Regions from separate parts of the Homo sapiens genome. Here all the other regions are linked to region 4. The links come from fine-mapping of genetic effects on gene expression. A gene starts in region 4. Each other region holds a variant in brackets. All regions are shown on one strand. Distances are from middle to middle.

Evidence for each region. PIP is the estimated chance that this variant, and not a neighbour inherited with it, causes the effect. A credible set is the group of variants that fine-mapping cannot tell apart.
Region 1: its variant is the best candidate, but not a certain one, in a credible set for the expression of MIER2 in esophagus mucosa (GTEx, PIP 0.51).
Region 2: its variant is the best candidate, but not a certain one, in a credible set for the expression of MIER2 in left ventricle (GTEx, PIP 0.82).
Region 3: its variant is the best candidate, but not a certain one, in a credible set for the expression of MIER2 in whole blood (TOPMed, PIP 0.84).

Annotation. Positions count from the first base shown.
Region 1 is chr19:385,349-390,496 of GRCh38, reverse strand. LOC124904606 (a long non-coding RNA gene) reads right to left here. Exons shown (of 3, transcript XR_007067071.1): 3 at 3,816-5,148. Among named protein-coding and RNA genes, the nearest start is that of SPMAP2, 12 kb to the right of the region's middle. RefSeq lists enhancers at 485-1,049, 1,050-1,615, 2,181-2,745, 2,746-3,310, 3,311-3,876. The variant C/A (reference allele first, on the strand shown) is at 3,183.
Region 2 is chr19:295,343-300,490 of GRCh38, reverse strand. No RefSeq gene overlaps it. Among named protein-coding and RNA genes, the nearest start is that of PLPP2, 6.5 kb to the right of the region's middle. The variant T/G (reference allele first, on the strand shown) is at 3,089.
Region 3 is chr19:243,481-248,628 of GRCh38, reverse strand. LOC101928344 (a long non-coding RNA gene) reads left to right here and starts at 2,104. Exons shown (of 13, transcript XR_002958438.2): 1 at 2,104-2,232. It overlaps LOC107985295 (a long non-coding RNA gene), which reads left to right and starts at 3,298. Exons shown (of 2, transcript XR_001753827.2): 1 at 3,298-5,148. The variant C/T (reference allele first, on the strand shown) is at 2,762.
Region 4 is chr19:342,428-347,575 of GRCh38, reverse strand. MIER2 (MIER family member 2) reads left to right here and starts at 2,780. Exons shown (of 14, transcript NM_017550.3): 1 at 2,780-2,802. The coding sequence starts at 2,794. RefSeq lists silencers at 2,436-2,885, 2,956-3,005, 3,306-3,415 and an enhancer at 3,724-4,675.

The DNA of each region.
Region 1 (5,148 bases), 43 kb before region 4:
TGCACCTTCAGGGCTGCTCGAGGACTCGCCTCAGTGTTCCCATCTGTGACAGGGAGCAATGGTGGCTGTCTTGGTGTTCCCATCTGTGACAGGGAGCAATGGTGGCTGTGCCTTCAGGGCTGCTCGAGGACTGAGTGGGAGGATGTTGCTACACGGAGTTTTGTTGATGGCATCTGTAGTTGTACAGTGACCCTACTCTCAGGCTACATGGGCTGCATCTGTTACAGCCATGGGTCTGCATTGTTCAGAATCATGTCTTGGAGGCCACGCTCTACCCACCTCTGTCTCCCATTACCGTGGGGTCTTGGCCTGCGCTGCTCTAGAACCCCAACCCCAGCTCAGGCCCCAGGAGAGAAATGGATGGGTCCCCACAAGCCAGACCGCGGCCTCCCAGAACCAGCTCATGGGGGATACGGGAGCGAGCAGAGACGTGAGGGCAGGAGCCACGGGCAGGGCACGTGCAAGAGGCCAGTGGTGGACTCAGAGGACAGGCAGACACACGGAGGACAGAGAAAGAGGGAGGGGAGAGAGAGAGAGACAGAGAGACGGAGAGGGGCATTGCCCTGTGTCTGGAGGGGAGGGGCTTGTCAAGGGCTGGGTTGGGGGTTGGGGCTGCAGAGGGACTGGGGGACTCGTCCCAGCCTCTCCTCCAAGGGCATCTTGGGCTGTTCCCCAGAAGCCGACTCTTTGGGCTGAAAATAGACCTCACAGCTCAGACACTGTCTCTGCAGCCACCTGGTGGCCCCTCACGCGTCCCCAGCTTCCCCGGAATGCCGAGTGTGTTGGTGAATTTTTTGTGTGAACTCGACTGGGCCGCAGGATCCCCAGAAGTTTGGTCAAACATCATTCTGGGCAGGTCTGTGAGGATGTTTTTGGATGAGGTGAACATCTGCAAACCACCCGCTCTTAGGAACACACCCAAACTCTGCTGTCGTGTTGAGGGTTTCATTACCATGAGTAAATCTGGGATGAATATTCATGTGTGAACGTCACTGACTACGTGCTCTGTGACATGTTTGGACACATGTGTCCCTCCAAATCTCATGCGGAAATGTGACGCCCAGAGTTGGTGTGAGGCCTGGTGGGAGGTGCTGGCTCACGGGGTAGATCCCGCCTGCAGGGCTTAGCCCATGCCCTTGGTGACACGTGAGTTGAGTTCTTGCTCACCTGAGAGCTGTTTACGATTGCGGCACCTTCCCCCTTGCTAACTCTCGCTCACCTGAGAGCTGTTTAGGAGTGCGGCACCATCCCCCGTCCTGCCTGTTGCTCACCTGAGAGCCATTTAGGAGTGCGGCACCGTCCCCCGTCCTGCCTGTTGCTCACCTGAGAGCCATTTAGGAGTGCGGCACCTTCCCTCTTGCTCCCTCTCACCCGTGACACACCAGCTCCCTCTTCACCTTCCTTGATGGGTAAACCTCCCCGGCCTCCCCAGAAGCGGCCCAGAGGCCGGTGTCACATTTCCTGTACGGCCCGCAGAACCGTGAGCAAATGAACCCTCTTCGTTATGAACGACCCAGCCTCAGGGACCTCTTCATAGCGACACACTCCACAAGACAGATGACTGGGGGTGAAGATCCTGGGCCCAAGGACGGAGCATCTGTGATGCAGGTACCTGCCGCCCAGTTCCCTTCTGAGGGCTGCGCCCGTGCAGGGCTGAGGGTGTGGGGCCTGCCCCCACGCCAGCCCATCCTTGTCAACCCTGCACGTCTCTCTGTCTCTCTCAGCTCAATGCAACCTCCACCTCCCGGGTTCAAGTGATTCTTCTCCCTCAGCCTCTCGAGTAGCTGAGATTACAGGCATGCACCATCACGCCCGGCTGATTTTTGTATTTTTAGTAGAGACGGGGTTTCACCATGTTGGCCAGGCTGGTCTCGAACTCCTGACCTCAGGTGATCCGTCCGCCTCGGCCTCCCAAAGTGCTGGGATTACAGGCCTGAGTCACTGCGCCCCGCCCTTAACTTGAATTTCTTAAGGCTGGATATGTGTTCCTAAGATCTTGGCCACCGTATTTCTTCCATTTGTAACTTGCTCATCCAAGTTCTCACTCATCCTCCTGCCGGGGTTTTGACCTGTTACTAATTTATGTGAGCTTATTATATAACAAGGATAGATGATCAAGGCCGAGGCTGAGACCCTGATGTGTACTCGAGGACACACGGCCGAGGCTGAGACCCTGCCGTGTACTCACAGACACACGCGGCCGAGGCTGAGACCCTGCCGTGTACTCACAGACACACGCGGCCGAGGCTGAGACCCTGCAGTGTACTCACAGACACACGCGGCCGAGGCTGAGACCCTGCCGTGTACTCACAGACACACGCGGCCGAGGCTGAGACCCTGCAGTGTACTCACAGACACACGCGGCCGAGGCTGAGACCCTGCCGTGTACTCACAGACACACGCGGCCGAGGCTGAGACCCTGCCGTGTACTTACAGACACACGTGGCCGAGGCTGAGACCCTGCTGTGTACTCACAGACACACGTGGCCGAGGCTGAGACCCTGATGTGTACTCGAGGACACACGGCCGACGCTGAGACTCAGAGCCCCTGTGGTCCCAGCTACTCGGGAGTCTGCGTTGGGGGGATCGCTTGACCTCAGGAAGTTGAGGCAGCAGTGTGTGGAGATTCACTGTTGCACTCCAGCCTGGATGACAGAGCAAGGCACTGCCTCAAAAATAAAGAAATACATAAATACTGAAATTTTTAGGGGTGGAGGTGCATGACATCTACAACTTAGCTTCAAATGTTCAGGAAAAAACCGACAGGAGGATAACACAGGGCGGCAGGTCGTTCACAGCGGGTGACCAGGTGAAGGACACACAGAGTTCTTACTGGGACCTTAAAGCCAATTTGACCTGTGAAGGGGTGGGTTGCCCCTCCATACCTGTGGGTGTTTCTCGTTAGGTGGAACAAGAGACTTGGAAAAGAAAAAGACACAGAGACAAAGTATAGAGAAAGAAATAAGGGGACCCGGGGAACCAGCGTTCAGCATATGGAGGATCCCGCCAGCCTCTGAGTTCCCTTAGTATTTATTGATCATTCGTGCGTGTTTCTTGAAGAGGGGGATGTGTCAGGGTCACAAGACAATAGTGGGGAGAGGGTCAGCAGACAAACACGTGAACAAAGGTCTTTGCATCATAGACAAGGTAAAGGATTAAGTGCTGTGCTTTTAGATATGCAT[C/A]CACATAAACATCTCAATGCTTTACAAAGCAGTATTGCTGCCCGCAGGTCCCACCTCCAGCCCTAAGGCGGTTTTTCCCTATCTCAGTAGATGGAACGTACAATCGGGTTTTATACCGAGACATTCCATTGCCCAGGGAGGGGCAGGAGACAGATGCCTTCCTCTTGTCTCAACTGCAAGAGGCATTCCTTCCTTTTACTAATCCTCCTCAGCACAGACCCTTTACGGGTGTCGGGCTGGGGGACGGTCAGGTCTTTCCGTTCCCACGAGGCCATATTTCAGACTGTCACATGGGGAGAAACCTTGGACAATACCTGGCTTTCCTAGGCAGAGGACCCTGCGGCCTTCCGCAGTGTTTGTGTCCCTGGGTACTTGAGGTTAGGGAGTGGTGATGACTCTTAACGAGCATGCTGCCTTCAAGCATCTGTTTAACAAAGCACGTCTCGCACCGCCCTTAATCCATTCAACCCTGAGTGGACACAGCACATGTTTCAGAGAGCACGGGGTTGGGGGTGGGGTCACCGAATCTCAAGGCAGAAGAATTTTTCTTAGTACAGAACAAAATGGAGTCTCCCATGTCTACTTCTTTCTACACAGACACAGTAACAATCTGATCTCTCTTGCTTTTCCCCACATTTCCCCCTTTTCTTTTCGACAAAACCGCCATCGTCATCATGGCCCGTTCTCGATGGTCGCTGTCTCTTCGGAGCTGTTGGGTACACCTGCAGACTAACAACAGACAAAACAGGCACACAAGGATTAATATGAGATTTATAATCATAGAACTTCCGATGGTCGTAACCCAAGCGACAGGGTTAAGATTTGCGAGGCCATCAGCCACTCCTGCGATTGCCTCCATTCCTGGCACCAAATTTAAATGGGCTTTTGATGCTTCGAAAATTTGTTCTTTCAATTTGGAAATGTCTAAAGTGAGATTATCTTCTCTTCCCTGTAGATGGCGTCTAACTATGTCCTAGTGATGCTCAGACTCATTATAAATTTGGGGTGTAATACAAAAGTCTGACGTATTCCAGTCACACTGTAACTGGAAATAATGTTCTAAGCTCATGAGCCTGTCTCCCATCCAAATGACAGGTTGTCTAAGATCATTATTTGATTTGCCAATTTTTGATCAATACTAGATTGTGAATTCCATAATCTTGTAGAATTTTTTTGCCAATCATTAAAAGTTTACCGACTGAACAGAAGAGTGCAATGCAACTCCTGCTACAGCAGCCGTAGCTGTGACTGCAATTAATCCCATAATCACTGCAATTAAAGTAAAAATGAATCTTTTGGATCTATTTAAAACGCCTTTTAATACTTCAGTCAAAATACGGACGGATGGCAAGGCCTCCTGCGGTCAGTCCGTGGACACGGGGACCCACACGCCCTCTCTTGCCCTCCCCAGCAGAATACGGTGTTGCCAATTAAAAGTCAAATCAATGCAAGTAAACAATCTGCAGTTTTCACAGGTTATAGTTTGAGAGTCTGGTTTAATAACTATATTTCCTACAACTAGCATATAAGGGGGGGCTTTACGCAACTTTGTAAAGGAACCGTTGGACTGGAATTTAGGTGGATAGTATAAAATGGCTTACAATCTCTTGTTTCTAAAGTTTGATTTCCAGACCAAATTCTAATGTGGTGTGAGGCCACAGTAAGCCTCCATAATTCTGGATGTTCAGGACCAGAAACAGGACTTATTATTTTTGGTCTTGGGGTAGAGATTCCTTTTTCTCCCCATACCCAAGGGTAGAAAGACTGTAATTTTTTATGCTTATGTTTGTCTAGAGTTTCTGTTAAGTCGCTATCAACAGCTGGACTCACTTGTGCACTTGGACACGACCGAGTTTGTCCTGAGCAACTGTGGTAGAATTGACTCGAGGTGCCCAATCTATAATAGTTCCGAATTCATTGTTTTGTAATATCACCGCACTATTGGCCACACATTCTTTCCAAACTA
Region 2 (5,148 bases), 47 kb after region 4:
CCCTCCAGTCACTGGTGTCACGGCCATGGGTGTCCCACAGTCCCTCCAGTCACTGGTGTCACGGCCCTGGGTGTCCCACAGTCTCTCCAGTCACTGGTGTCACGGCCCTGGGTGACCCACAGTCCCTCCAGTCACTGGTGTCACGGCCATGGGTGTCCCACAGTCTCTCCAGTCACTGGTGTCACGGCCATGGGTGTCCCACAGTCCCTCCAGTCACTGGTGTCACGGCCATGGGTGACCCACAGTCCCTCCAGTCACTGGTGTCACGGCCATGGGTGTCCCACAGTCCCTCCAGTCACTGGTGTCACGGCCCTGGGTGTTGTCCCACAGTCTCCAGTCACTGGTGTCACGGCCCTGGGTGTTGTCCCACAGTCTCTGCAGTCACTGGTGTCACGGCCCTGGGTGTCCCACAGCCTCCAGTCACTGGTGTCACGGCCATGGGTGTCCCACAGTCTCTCCAGTCACTGGTGTCCCGGCCATGGGTGTCCCACAGTCTCTCCAGTCACTGGTGTCACGGCCATGGGTGTCCCACAGTCTCTCCAGTCACTGGTGTCACGGCCATGGGTGTCCCACAGTCACTGTCACTGGTGTCACGGCCATGGGTGACCCACAGTCTCTCCAGTCACTGATGTCACGGCCATGGGTGACCCACAGTCTCTCCAGTCACTGGTGTCACGGCCCTGGGTGTCCCACAGTCACTGTCACTGGTGTCACGGCCATGGGTGACCCACAGTCTCTCCAGTCACTGATGTCACGGCCATGGGTGACCCACAGTCTCTCCAGTCACTGGTGTCACGGCCATGGGTGTCCCACAGTCTCTCCAGTCACTGGTGTCACGGCCCTGGGTGTCCCACAGTCTCCAGTCACTGGTGTCACGGCCATGGGTGTCCCACAGTCACTGTCACTGGTGTCACGGCCATGGGTGACCCACAGTCTCTCCAGTCACTGGTGTCACGGCCATGGGTGACCCACAGTCTCTCCAGTCACTGGTGTCACGGCCATGGGTGTCCCACAGTCCCTCCAGTCACTGGTGTCACGGCCATGGGTGACCCACAGTCCCTCCAGTCACTGGTGTCACGGCCATGGGTGTCCCACAGTCTCTCCAGTCACTGGTGTCACGGCCCTGGGTGACCCACAGTCCCTCCAGTCACTGGTGTCACGGCCATGGGTGTCCCACAGTCTCTCCAGTCACTGGTGTCACGGCCCTGGGTGACCCACAGTCCCTCCAGTCACTGGTGTCACGGCCATGGGTGTCCCACAGTCCCTCCAGTCACTGGTGTCACGGCCATGGGTGTCCCACAGTCCCTCCAGTCACTGGTGTCACGGCCCTGGGTGACCCACAGTCCCTCCAGTCACTGGTGTCACGGCCCTGGGTGTCCCACAGTCCCTCCAGTCACTGGTGTCACGGCCCTGGGTGACCCACAGTCCCTCCAGTCACTGGTGTCACGGCCATGGGTGTCCCACAGTCCCTCCAGTCACTGGTGTCACGGCCATGGGTGTCCCACAGTCACTGTCACTGGTGTCACGGCCATGGGTGACCCACAGTCTCTCCAGTCACTGGTGTCACGGCCCTGGGTGTCCCACAGTCCCTCCAGTCACTGGTGTCACGGCCCTGGGTGACCCACAGTCACTGTCACTGGTGTCACGGCCATGGGTGTCCCACAGTCCCTCCAGTCACTGGTGTCACGGCCATGGGTGTCCCACAGTCACTGTCACTGGTGTCACGGCCATGGGTGACCCACAGTCTCTCCAGTCACTGGTGTCACGGCCATGGGTGACCCACAGTCCCTCCAGTCACTGGTGTCACTGCCATGGGTGTCCCACAGTCCCTCCAGTCACTGGTGTCACGGCCCTGGGTGACCCACAGTCTCTCCAGTCACTGGTGTCACGGCCCTGGGTGTCCCACAGTCTCGCCAGTCACTGGTGTCACGGCCATGGGTGTCCCACAGTCCCTCCAGTCACTGGTGTCACGGCCATGGGTGTCCCACAGTCCCTCCAGTCACTGGTGTCACGGCCCTGGGTGTCCCACAGTCTCGCCAGTCACTGGTGTCACGACCATGGGTGACCCACAGTCCCTCCAGTCACTGGTGTCACGGCCATGGGTGTCCCACAGTCTCTCCAGTCACTGGTGTCATGGCCATGGGTGACCCACAGTCTCTCCAGTCACTAATGTTACAACCCTCGGTGTTGCCTCACAGCTCTCTCTTTTATTTTTCTCTCTCTCTGTGCTTCTGTTTGAATAATTTCTTTTTTTTTTTTTTTTTTTTGGGAGACGGAGTCTTGCTCTGTCACCCAGGCTGGAGTGCAGTGGCATGATGTCGATGATGTCGGCTCACTGCAACCTCCATCTCCTGGGTTCAAGCGATTCTCCTGCCTCAGCCTTCCCAGTAGCTGGGATTATAGGTGTGCGCCACCACACCCGGCTAATTTTTGTTTTATTTTTAGTAGACACGGGGTTTCACCATATTGGCCAGGCTGGTCTTGAATTCCTGACCTCGTGAGCCACCTGCCTCGGCCTCCCAAAGTACTGGGATTACAGGCGTGAGCCAGTGTGCCCGGCCTCTGAATAATTTCTATCGACATGTCTTTGATGCTACCAATCCTCTTTTCTGATATTCCAGATTTCTATTTAGTCTGTTTCACAAAATTTTTATTTCCCATATTGTATATTTTAATAGGTGCTCTTATGTGTTTTTAATTTTTCTGCTGAAATTCTCCATTTTCTCACCTTGCCCCTATCTTTTCTTCTGTAATCTTTAACCTTTTAATAATAGTTACTTTAAATCATTGTCATCCTATTGCTTTGCTTTTTTTTTTTTTTTTTTTTTTTTGAGACGAGGTCTCGCTCTATCGCCCAGGCTGGAGTGCAGCGGCGTGAACTCGGCGCACAGCAACTGCCACTTCCCAGGTTCAAGTGATATTGTCCTGCCTCAGCCTCCCGAGTAGCTGGGACTACAGGCACCCACCACCATGCCCGGCTAGTTTTTGTATTTTTAGTAGAGACGAGGTTTCACCATGTTTGCCAGGATGGTCTTGAACTCCTGACCTCAGGTGATCCACCCGCCTCGGCCTCCCAAAGTGCTGGGAT[T/G]ACAGGCGTGAGCCACTGAGCCCAGCCCTTTTTTTCCTTTTCTTTTTCTTTTTTTTTTTGAGACGGCGTCTCGCTTTGTTGCCCAGGCTGGAGTGCAGTGGTGTGATCTCAGTTCACTGCAACCCCTGCCTCCCAGGTTTAAGTGATTCTCCTGCCTCAGCCTCCGGAGTAGCTGGGATTACAGGCGCACACCACCACACCGCACACGCTGCCACGCCCGGCTAATTTTTGTATTCTTAGTAGAGACGGGCTTTCACCATGTTGGCCAGGCTGGTCTCAAACTCTTGACCTTGTGATCTGCCCTCCTCGGCCTCCCAAAGTGCTGGGATGACAGGCGTGAGCCGCTGTGCCCAGCCCGAAAGTTATACTCTTAAGACCCAGTCCGGGGATGCCAGGGCCTCCAGAAACAGGAATCAGGAGTCACCATCCACATTATGATGTTTCGGTGCTTCTATTTCTCTGCTGCCCGAACTGACCTTCTTCTCAGGGGCAGCGCCCTTTGTGGCGACTGAGATGGCACCAGAAGCTCCAGGCACACAACCTTACATCTGTGATTTCTGTGGGAAGCCTGTATCTTGCCCAACTGTTCTAACAAAACTCCTGGGTAAAATTTGTTCTTGGGTCTCGTGCCCATAACTGAATCAGGAACTGCCGAGCAGAAGGGGTTTCCTGGTTGGCCAGGCCAGGGTCCCTTGTTCCCCTTCGGTAGCAGGGCAGGCCCCATGGAGAAGGAATAGTAAGAGGGAGGAGCACATGGGCAGGCCGGGCGCAGCCACCCAGAGGCATGAGCGTCCCATTTGTGTGGGGTGAGCACAGAGGTCAGGAGGGCAGTGCAGGAACAACTTCCCTCTTAGGCCAAGAAATCTGAAACTGGGAAGGCAGTGGGGAGCCTTAGTGTGTTTTTTAGCTGAAGTAGAGTCACGCTTTAGGGAGATTGGATTTGACTGGAATATCTAAGATAGGTTGGAGCTGGGAGAGACCCTGGGATGCCATTGTTGACTAATATTCTGTTCTTGTCCATGGTGTCTTGTGTTTCTGAGGGTGCACTAGATGTGGGTAAGACAGTTAAGGAGCAGAGGGGATACTGTTTTGCCTCAGGAAGGGCTTGCCCCTCTCCTGTCAGCAGCTGGGTTGATGTGCTGGTCTCGAGGAGCTGGGCTGGCCTGCTCACCGCTTGTGTAGCGTAGCTTTGCCTCTGGGTTAGCTGTGGGGTGGTGGAATCCTGCCCTTCCTGCAGCCCAGACCCAGGCAGGAGGACCTGGAGGGCCCGCTGTGCCTTGGGGCTCTTCCGGATTTGTCTGACACCAGGCTCCTAGGACTAATGAGGCCTCCACCAGACTTGGTCTTGACTAACCTCAGGGGAGCTCATACCTCTCTAGAACAAACTTACTGTCCTCAGCTTTTCGGCAGCCATAAATAAAAGTCATTTGTGTTCGTTTATTTAATGCTTTCCTTTTACAGTGAAGTGAAGGTCTTTGATGACCTCCTTCCTACCTGCTAACCAAATATGGAAATCTGTTCTGGACAGAGTCCATGGCCGTGCCAGGAAGCAGGCGTTAGCCAGGGGCCTGCCTGGAGATCAGCCCTCCTGAGACAATTTCTGTGGGGGTGGAAGTGGGGGAGGGAGAAAGTCGCTCAGAACTGATGGTCCTGGACCGGCCACGGTCCCCAGAGCCTCAGCCTCCCAGGCCCAGGCTTTGTTGAAGATGTCCGGGCCCTGGACTGGCGCTGTCTGGGCCCCCACTGACCTGACCCAGCTGTTTCTCTCTCCCTGATGGTCCTTGTTTTCTCGGTTTGTAGTTCCTGGGTAGGATGGCCAGATAAAATACAGGATGCCCAGTTGGGCTCGGATTACAGATAAACGAATGTGTAAGTATGTCCCATGCAGTATTCGGGACACATACTGAAAACCGGTTTGTTGCTCTTCTGGGATTCAAATGTAACGGGGTGTCCTGTTTGTTTCACAGGTATCAGGACTCAGCTAGGGGGTCCTTGATGTTTATTTGCCCCATTGCTGGGCTGTTCTCAGGAGGATGTTGAGACCCTGGCGTGGAGCGCCT
Region 3 (5,148 bases), 99 kb after region 4:
TTTTCTTCAATATGTGGCTTGTCTTTTGGTTCTCTTAACAAGGTCTCTTCCAGAGTATAAACTGTAAATATTAAGAAATCCACATTGTCATTTCTTCTGTGTATATCAACCTTCTGTGTCATTTGTTAAAATTCATTACCAAACGCAAAGGCACATAGCTTTTCTTCTATAGTTTCTTCTAGAAATTGTATAGTTTTGCTTTTTTAGTGTAAGGATGATTTTGAGTGATTATTTGTGTAAGTTGTAAAGTTTTCATCTACATGCATATGATTTCTTATGGTTTCCAATTAATAATTCCCTCACTATTTTTGGGAAAGACACAGGATAGTGGGCTCTGTTAGAGTAGATAGCTAGCTAGACATGAACAGGAGGGGGAGCTCCTGGAAAAGGGAAAGTCTGTGAAGGCTCACCTGGAGGGACCACCAAAAATGCACATATTAGTAGCATCTCCAGTGCTGGAGAGGATGGGCACTTGTCAATTGTGGTTAGGAGGGAGAAGAGGTACCTACGCAGAAACACCCTAGAACTTCTCTTAAGATGCCCCAATCATCATTCACTCTGCAATAAAAATGTCAGAATATTGCTAGCTACATGCTGATAAGAAGGACAAAGGGGACATTCCTAAGAGAAACCTGGCACCATAAGTACAGATTAGGGCAGAGAAAGACATTCAAAAGAGGCAGGTGCAGTAGATACAAACGTGACTGCTGTCAGCCTGCCTGGGATGGCAGGAAGGAGGTTGGTGCCAGAGTGGATTCAGATTCATCACCCCACGTGTACCTCAATCAACAGGAGGTCCCACAAGCCTAAGTGGGGCAAGTCAGGGACCTAAGGCAGTAGCAGGAAAACCAAGGAAAACAAGCATAGACTTGAGACAGAGGCAGGAATGTGAAGAAGTCCAAAATAAAATTCCCTGCACAGGACTCTTAGGCTGTTTTCATGCACTATGAACCCACTCCTCCCTATTTTCCTACAATAAGCTCTTTACACTGTATTTCTTTTCAATGAAGTTATCTTCCATCTTTGTACTGCCTCTTGGTGAAAATCTTTCTTCCAAGTTAATAACTGGGACATCAGCTCTCCCCAGTAATAGCTCCTTTTCAGTTTTAATTTACAGAACTGATGGGGATTAATAACTGGCGCTCTGACTTTAAGTGGTGCAGGAGGCGGCCAGTAGGGGACGCCAGCCGTCACACCGGGAGCAAGAGGGCCCTGCCTAGTCCCCATCTGCCTGCAGGTGGCGTGCAGCCACGACAGTGTCAGCAAGAGGGCCCGGCAGTGTCCCTAGCTGCCAGCAGGGGGCGAACGACGACTACACTGTGAGCAAGAGGGCCCTGCAGTGTCCTTAGCTGCCAGGAGGTGGCGTAGGGGCACCACACCATGAGCAAGAGGACCGTGAAGTGCCCTGGTTGCCAGCAGGGGGCGTGCTGCCACTACACTGTGAGCAAGAGGATCCTGTAGTGCCCCCAGCGGACAGAAGAGGGCATGCCCCGACTACACTGCAAGCAAGAGGGCCCAGCAGTGTCCCCAGCTGCCAGCAGGCGGGTGTGCTGCCACTACAATGTGAGCAAGAGGGCCCTGCAATGTCCCTAGCTGCCAGCAGGCGGCGTGCCGCCAGTATACTGCGAGCAAGAGAGCCCTGCCGTGCCCCGGCACCGGCAGGGGGCGCTGGACACCACTGTAAGGAAGAGGGCCCTGCAGTTGCCCTAGTCGCCAGCAGGGGGCGCAATGGCACAGCACCGTGGGCAAGCGGGTCCTGTAGTGCCCGGGTACAAGCAGGGGGCACCCGAACCGGGCTTTTCAGATTACTCAGGTTCCACCCGTCTGTGCGCCGCGCCGCCGGGGACGTGTGTCTGCGCCTGCACCTCGCCATTCCCGCGCTCCCCGCCCAGCGGCGTGCGACTGTACACCTGCAACACGCCCCGCCACCCTGAGCCCAGCGACGTGCGTCTCTGCGCCTGCACCTGCGCCGCGCCTCACTCCCGCCCGCCCAGAGACCCCTCCCCTCCGGGGACGCGGAGGCGTGCGTCTATGCCCTGCGCCGCGTCTCCCGAACAGCGCCTGCGCGGGCGCGCCGCGCCTGCCTGCGCCGGCGCCGGCGCGCCGTGCCTTTGCGAGAGCGGAGTTGGGTTCTCCTCAGCACAGACGCGGAGAGCATCGCGAGGGCGGAGCTGCGTTCTCATCTGCACAGATTTCAGTGGTACTGCGAAGGCGGAGCAGAGTTCTCCTCAGGTCAGACCCGGGCGGGCGGGCTGAGGGCACCGCGAGGGCGGAGCTGCGTTCTGCTTAGCACAGACCTGGGGGACACCGTAAAGGTGGAGCAGCATTCTCCTAAGCACAGACGTTGGGGGCACTGCCTGGCTTTGGGACAACTCGGGGCCGCATCGACGGTGAATTAAATCTTTCCCGGTTGCAGCCGTGAATAATCAAGGGCAGAGACCAGTTAGAACGGTTCAGTGTGGAAAACGGGAAACCAAAAGCCCCTCTGAATCCTGCGCACCGAGATTCTCCCAAGGCAAGGCGAGGGGCTGCATTGCAGGGTCCAGTTGCAGCGTTGGAATACAAATGCAGCATTCCTAAGGCACACATGACACCCAAAATATAACACCCACATTGCTCATGTGGTTTAGGGTTAGGGTGAGGGTTAGGGGTTAGGGGTTAGGGTTAGGGGATTAGGGGTTAGGGGTTAGGGTTGGGGTTGGGGTTGGAGTAGGGTTAGGGTTAGGGGTTAGGGTTAGGGGTTAGGGTTAGGGTTCGGGTT[C/T]GGGCTAGGGGTAGGGTTAGGGTTAGGGGTTAGGGTTTAGGGTTAGGGGTCGGGGTCAGGGTCAGGGTCAGGGTCAGGGGTTGGGGTTGGGGTTGGGTTTAGGGTTGGGGTTATGGGGTTAGGGGTTAGGGTTAGGGATAGGGGTTAGGGGTTAAGGTTAGGGTTAGGGTTAGGGGTTAGGGTTAGGAGTTAGGGGTTAGGGTTAGGTTTAGGGGCTAGGGTCAGGTTTGGGTTAGGGTTGGGTTAGGGTTAGGGTTGGGTTAGGGTTAGGGTTTGGGTTAGGATTAGGGTTAGGGGTTAGGGTTAGGATTAGGGGTTAGAGTTAGGGTTACGGTACTGTAAATAATTTTATATTATTACTAATAATAAATTATTATTTGTATTACACTGTTACATAATGTAAACCCTATTAAGACATGTTTTTCTTCAAAGAATGGCCTTGGTTTCTGTGGGCTGTGCCTCCTCATGGAAGGGTAATGCATTCCTGCTAAATCATGGACAAAACGGGCTTCCAGGAGCTACAGACTGCAGCAGCAGCTTCTCCTCTACGTCCTTCACTGCCTCAAACTGTTGTTGACTTTGAAAGCTTCTTTCAGTCTAGTTTTATCAACAGAGCTAGTATTTCATGAGGTTCTACTACATACCAGGTTCCAGAAAGCTAAATGCCTTTTGTTTGTTATTATTCACTAAATACAAATCACAACTCTCTCCTCATTACTCACACAACAAAATTTAGCTGAGGGAGATTGAGTGACTTTCCCAGGGTCACATAGCTACTAAGAGCAGAGTCGTGTTCAGATTCATGTGGGAATATTGAACACAGAAATGAACCAGTGGAAACATCCTATGTTCCAAAAGCCTACTCAAGGCCTTTCTTCTTATTTTAAGGAAAATCTTTATGCTAATTTTAAACTCCAAATACTTATGAATGGCAGAGATCTACAGATTTGATTCTGATGTAAGAAATGATGGTCACCAGCCAGTTACTGCTACCACCCCACAACCCCGAGCATACTGGACGAATGTCTAAGCCTTGTGGTTAGTGGGGACAATGCTGGTGGAGTCTGAAGTTGTCATGCAGTGACTCATGCAAGCTTAGGCAGATTTGGTGATATATGACACAGAGATGCAAAGAAATGTTGTAGCTGACACACACAGGCTGGCTCTGGGAGATGCAGAAGGAGCACGTCACCCAAAATAGAGCCAGACAAGACATCCTTAAGGAAGGAGCAAAAGGGCTGCATCTTAAAGAATGTAGAAAGGATTTGTCATGAGAGATGGGGCAGGAAGTTCTTGAGAGGCAGAGGGAGAGCATGAGAATGTTAGGAAGGGAGGAGAGATTCTCACACATCTGGGAAGCTGACAATCCATCAGCATGGCCAGAAGGAAAATGAGGAGGAGCAGAAATAGATGAGGCTGGATATAGAAGCAGGGCTGAAGCGGTGTTGATTGTGGTAAAGAGTTGTGATTCTATCCAGAACTCAATAGGTAGCATTCTAAACAGAGATCTTTTAAACAAGAGTCAGCAAGTATTTTCTGCAAGGGGCTAAATGTTAAATATTTTAAGTTTTCCAAGCCATATGGTCTCTCTCTCAATGACTCAGCTCTTCCATTATACCATGAAAATAGCCAGAGACATTATGTAACACATGTATTGGCTGTGTCCCATTACAACTTTACTTACAAACGCAGACTGTGTCAGACATGGTCCATGCATGGTAGTTTGCCACACCCTGTTTTAGAAAGCTCAGGTTTATGATGTGATGGAGAATGCCTACAAGAGCTCTTGTTTTAAATGGTAGAGTGAACATACACTGGAATTCTATCCTGCTTGACCCAAGCTCTTGATAGCGAAAGGTAGAAAAGATAGATGGTAAATAGATAGATAGATGATAGATAAAGAAAATACATAGCTGTTCCAGAAAACAGAAATGGATAACTTCATGAACCAAAAGCAGAGTAATATACTTTAGAAAGGAAGCGGGCCGGAAAACCCACAGTTGCAAAACAAATAGAATTTCCAACTGCCTCTTGTAGCCCCTTCCTGGAAGTAGTCACAGCCCAGGGTGTTCGACTTCTTCCTCTGTTTTTTGTTTGTTTGTTGTTTGCTTTTCTGTGGGGTTTTTGTTGTTGTTGTTTGCTTTTAAAAAAAAATTCCCTTTCCCTGCTTTTTTGTCACAGCAGCCTTTGTCACTTCAAACACCGCAAGTGTTCTTTAAAAAAAATTATATCAACCTTTCAATTAAAATGCAACATGTCTGAAACTTGGTATCTGGAGAGGTGAGTTGGACAAAGGAGCCCTTGTTACTGCACGTTTTCATTCTTCAAATTTCACCTTGCACACAGTAACAGACAGTGCACAAAGCTACTTCCTTATGGACGGAAAT
Region 4 (5,148 bases):
GCCCAGGCTGGAATGCAATGGTGCCATCTCGGCTCACTGCAGCCTCCACCTCCCGGTTTCAAGCGATTCTCTTGCCTCAGCCTCCCGAGTAGTTGGGACTACAGGTGTGCACCACCACGCCCGGCTAATTTTTTGTATTATTTTAGTAGAGATCAGGTTTCACCATGCTAGCTAGGCTGGTCTTGAACTCCTGACCTCGTGATCTTCCTGCTTCAGCCTCCCAAAGTGCTGGGATTACAGGTGTGAGCCACAGCGCCTGGCCTGTTTTGTTTTGAGATGGAGTTTTGCTCTTGTCGCCCAGGCTGGAGTGTAGTGGCGCAATCTCAGCTCACTGCAACCTCCGCCTCTCGGGTTCAAGTGATTCTCCTGCCTCAGCCTCCTGAGCAGCTGGGATTACAGGCACCCGCCACCACGCCCCATTGTGGCATTAACATTTCTGAAGAATACAGTCCCTCTTTTGTTTAACAGAATATTCCTTATTTGGGTTTGTCTGAAATTTCCTCATATGTAGATATGGGTTGTGCATTGCTGGCTGGATTCAGTGATGCCGTGTCCTGCTTTGGACACCACATCCAGGTGCACATGGTGTGCACCTGCCCTTTACCAGGGATGCTGAGTTTTATCACCCACCCAACAAGTGGCTTCATTTCTCCACTGCGACTAACAGTCTACGGAGACAGACTTTCAGACCTTAAAATATCCTTCACTCTTTTTTTTTTTTTTTTTTGAGACAGGTCTCACTCTGTTGCCCAGGCTGGGGTGCAGTGGCACAATCACTGCTTACCGCAGCCTCGACCTCCTGGGCTCAAGAGATCCTCCCACTTCGGCCTCCAGAGTAGCTGGGACTACAGGCACATTATCGTCATGCCCTCTAATGTTTAAAGTTTTTTTTTTTTTTTTTTGAAACAGTGTCTCACTCTGTTTCCCAGGCTGGAGTGCAGTGATCTTAGCTCACTGCAACCTCTGCCTTCCCAGGTTCAAGTGATTCTCTTGCCTTAGCCTCCACAGAATAGCTGGGATTATGGGCACTCGCCACCACGCCCGGATAATTTTTGTATTTTTAGTAGAGACAGGGTTTCACCCTGTTGCCCAGGCTGGTCTCAAACTCCTGACCTCAAGTGATCCTCCTGCCTCTGCCTCCCCAAGTGTTAGGATTAGAGGTGTGAGTCACCGTTCCAAGCCACAATACCCTTCTCTTCACCCAAGTCCTCATTTGACATCTATGTGATGATTCTTGCCAAGCCCTCTCCTAAGAGTCTTCCCTCGTTTTGCCAGGTGGACTCAAGCCCTTGTCTTCGGGCCCCTCCACCTGTTACAGCACAGCACCTCACTCTCTTATCTGTTCATGCTTCTCCCTGCTTCACAGGACCTCTGGCTACCCAGCACCCAGTTGAGGACTGCATAAGATATGTGTTTAGTTCACTGAATGACTGAATGAATAATAACAAATGAATAATAAAGGAAGGAACCAACTCTTGCACAAATCAGTGAGGACTCTTCAACACGAGGGCCAGAACCCTCAATCTCAATGATGTAAACCAAAAAAGGAGTGAGGGTAGACCCCTCCAGAGTGGTTCTTCTATCTCTTGGTTGGTGAATTCTCAGAGGACTGAGTAATGATTTTGCATCAGGAATCAAGGCTGATGCATGTCAAGTTCTCACTATTCATTGGCTGATCACTGGGAAACAGGAATGAGACTCATTCTCTTCTTCCTGGTCCCCAATTCCCTTCCTCCTGGTCCCCAATTCCCTTCTTCCTGGTCTCCAGTTCTCTTCTTCCTGGTCTCAGTAGGAACCGCCCTCCACTCATTTGCGCAAGCCAGACATCTGGAGGCCATCCTTCACTCTCTCCAGCTTCCCTCCATCAGCGAGTCTTGTGGTGTCCACCTTCTCAAGTCTCTCTGCACTCTGGTCCAGGCCCCACAGCTCCCACCTGGCCCCTGCCTCTTCACGCCCCACCCCTGCTTCCTATCCTCTCTCTGCATCGTGCGCCCCGAAGATTCACGGCACTTATCCGTCTCAAATTTAAGGTGTGGCGAGTCCTTGCCTTCCCATCCTCCACTCTAAACGCCCTGAAGACAGGCGTTAGGGCTGTCTCCTTCAAACCCTCAGGATCAGAACGTGCACGTGTTCCAGAAATGTTCAATCTGCGAAACGACGGACTGCAGAACCAAATGGCCCTGGGGTCAAGCCCACCTCCCTGCCTCCCGCCTTGGGCTCTCCGGCGCGGGGCCACCGTTTCTAAAACCTCTCCGACTGGTGCGCGTTCGCAAGCTCCCCGATTGGTTCCTCCGCGCGCTAGTTTGCTCATCACGGGTGCGAAAGTGCAGAAAATTCCAGAACCACGCAGCCCGGACACCAATTCTGGCTCTATCACTGACACTCTGGGTGGCCCGTCGCCCTGGGCCTCAGTTTCCTAGTCTGCCACGCGGGGTATTAACAGCGAGCAGCCGAGGGAATGAAGAGGTCACACAGGACCACGTGGTCCCCACGCAGGTGTGATTATCAGGAATTCGTATTTTTATGGAATGCAGTCTCCTCCGCCAAGGCCAAGGCCAAGATCAGGGTCCAGCAGAGACGGCCGGAAAGACACCGCAAGCTCGCCAGAAGCCGCCGGCCACGCTCGGCTGCGCGCCCGCGCCCGCGCCCGCGCACCTACTACGCGCCCGGCCCGCTCTCCGCCCCCTCCAGGCTCCGCCCCCTGCCCCGCCCTCCAGGCTCCACAGCCAATGAGTGCGCGGCCCCTCATCCGGGGATCCCGGCGCGGCCACCGCCTCCCGCGCACACACGGCCATGGCGGAGGTGAGTGAGCGGGCCGGGGGAGCCGGCCCCCCGCCCCCGCGCGTCCGCGCCCCCCGCCGCCGTGGCTCGGCCTCGTCGTGGGCCCCAGGGACGGAGAGCCCCGCTCTGGAGCTCTGAGGCCGGCCGGGGCGCCTGGCCCGTCCGGGGCCGGAGGGGCGCGGGGCTCCATCGGCGGCCGCCCCCGGCCGGCCCCCACCCCCCAACTCCCCCGGCTGCCACATCGCGGGCTGCAGTGCGCATGCGCGGCGGCGCGGGGCGGGCGGGGGCCGGGGTGGGGGAGGGGAGGGACGCGGGGCGGGGCTGGTGTCGGGGGTCCGGTGGGCGCGCGGCTCCGTTCCAGGGTCCGGCTCCGGTTCCCGGCCCCGGCCCGGGCCCCGCGGCGCGCAGGCCTCCCCTCCCGCGCCTTTGCCAACTTTGCCGAGTGCTGGGGCCGCCAGGCGCCCCGCGCTCCCCATCGGGATCCCGGTGGACCCACCGCGCCTCCGCCGCCCGCGAGCCCCCCGGCGGGGCTGGGTCAGACCCCGGGCGGGATTTGAACTCCCGACGCGGACCCGCCTGGCGCGAACTGGGCGCAGGGTGGGTGGGTCTGCCGGGGCCTAGAGAGCGTCGGGGCTGATCTCAGAAGAGTTGGACCAGCCTCTCCCGGGCACGAAGTTACTTCTGGAGCCTCCTCCCTCGTCCAGGAAACAAGCCCGGGACCCTTTATCTGAAATGTTTGGGACCAGCTATATTTTGGAATCCAGAATTTTTCCAATTTGAGGATCTGTGGGATTTTGGACTGTGATGTTTGATCAAACCCACCTAGGACTGTCTAGGATAAGACAACAGATAGCTTCGTGTCAGGTCAAACCAGGAAGGAAGAAACTTTCGCTTTTGAAGCTTTTTTTGATTTTGGAGTGGTGGATGAGCCTGTGTGGACTTGCTTTCACCTTGGAGGGCCCTGGTGAAGATGGAAAGAGATAATGTAGGTGAAGGTGCGGCGGCTGCGAGGTGCTCAGTCAGTGGGACTCAGTGCATGACTTCTGTGCGCAGAAGTTACGACAGGCGGGCAGACTCAAGAGCTGATCCTATCTCTGGGATAGAGCCCAAAGGAAAAGGTGCCCACCCAGCCAGGCACAGCCGCCTCGTGGGAAGCCGGGATTGGAACTGCGGCCTGGCCGTGGTGCCACGTTGCGTGTTTATGTCTTGGGCGTTGTGGGAGGCAGGACTGGCCATTCTCTCCCCCTGGTGACGACCTCAGGGGCAGTAACAGGCCCTGTGTTTATGCCAAAGACGGTGTAGGTGTCTCGATACTAGGCCAGACCACCGGCCAGTTCCTTCATCGAGAATTAGTTCTTCTTGAGACGCTTAGGGAGACTGAGTCCCCATGCAGATGGTGGCTGTCCTCCAGGGTCGGAGGCAGAAGCCGCGTCTCCCAGTGGCCCTGCAGCGACGTGGTGGTCGAATGAGTTGTGCTCCTGGAATCTGGGCAACACACGTGGCCTGACAGGTAGCTCTGTGTCTGGGATGGCACAAGTCAGACTCCCAAGCCAGCCTCCCCCAGAGCTGCCATGTGGCTGTTCTGCCCTGCTCTAGGCTGAGCTCCGTAAATGTGCACAGCAGCTTGTGGTCCGGCTGCTCCTGTTAACCCTGTTTTACACTTTGGGGTGGTGCCCTGTTGAGTGAATTTGATTTGATTTTCTAAGGAGGTCCCGCTCTGTCCTCGGCCTGAGGATCTGGGAGTGAATGGAGCAGACAGGGCCTCTCCTACAGGGATGCAGAGTCTGGTCAGAGAGAGACGTGGGTGGGTTAGGACCAACAAGTATGAGGTGCTGAGCGTGAGGAGCCATGGCAAGCTGTCTGACCACCGGACTTGTTCTGTGTGGTCTTGGGCAGGTTGCCCAGTGACTCAGAACTTCCTTTTCCTCATCTCTGAAATGGGAAGTTTAATGGTCACCCTTCAGAGCTAGGAGGTCTGATGAGGTCCTGCCACAACGGCTTGTACATGGAAGTTGAATCTTGTGAAGTTGACGATATTCCACTGTTTTTAACCCGTAAAAGTGGCAATTTGTAACTTTATAGCACGTGATCAGTACTAGCTACTTTATTCTGTATCAGTATCCCAGAATAATCATAAGCACCACAGTGGCAGACGGGAATGCTTCATACTTTTCTCAGGCATACTAGATTGATCTTTTAAAAACCTAAGAGCACCATCTTTTGCTCCTACCTAAAACCCTCCATGGCTTTTCATGGTCCCTGGGATAAAATGCTCCTCCTTGCTGAGTCCCACAGCCCTGTGAGGTGGTCCCCACGGATCTGCCCCCTACTCTAGGGCCCTGGGCTCCTGTTTGCTGGTGCACTCTA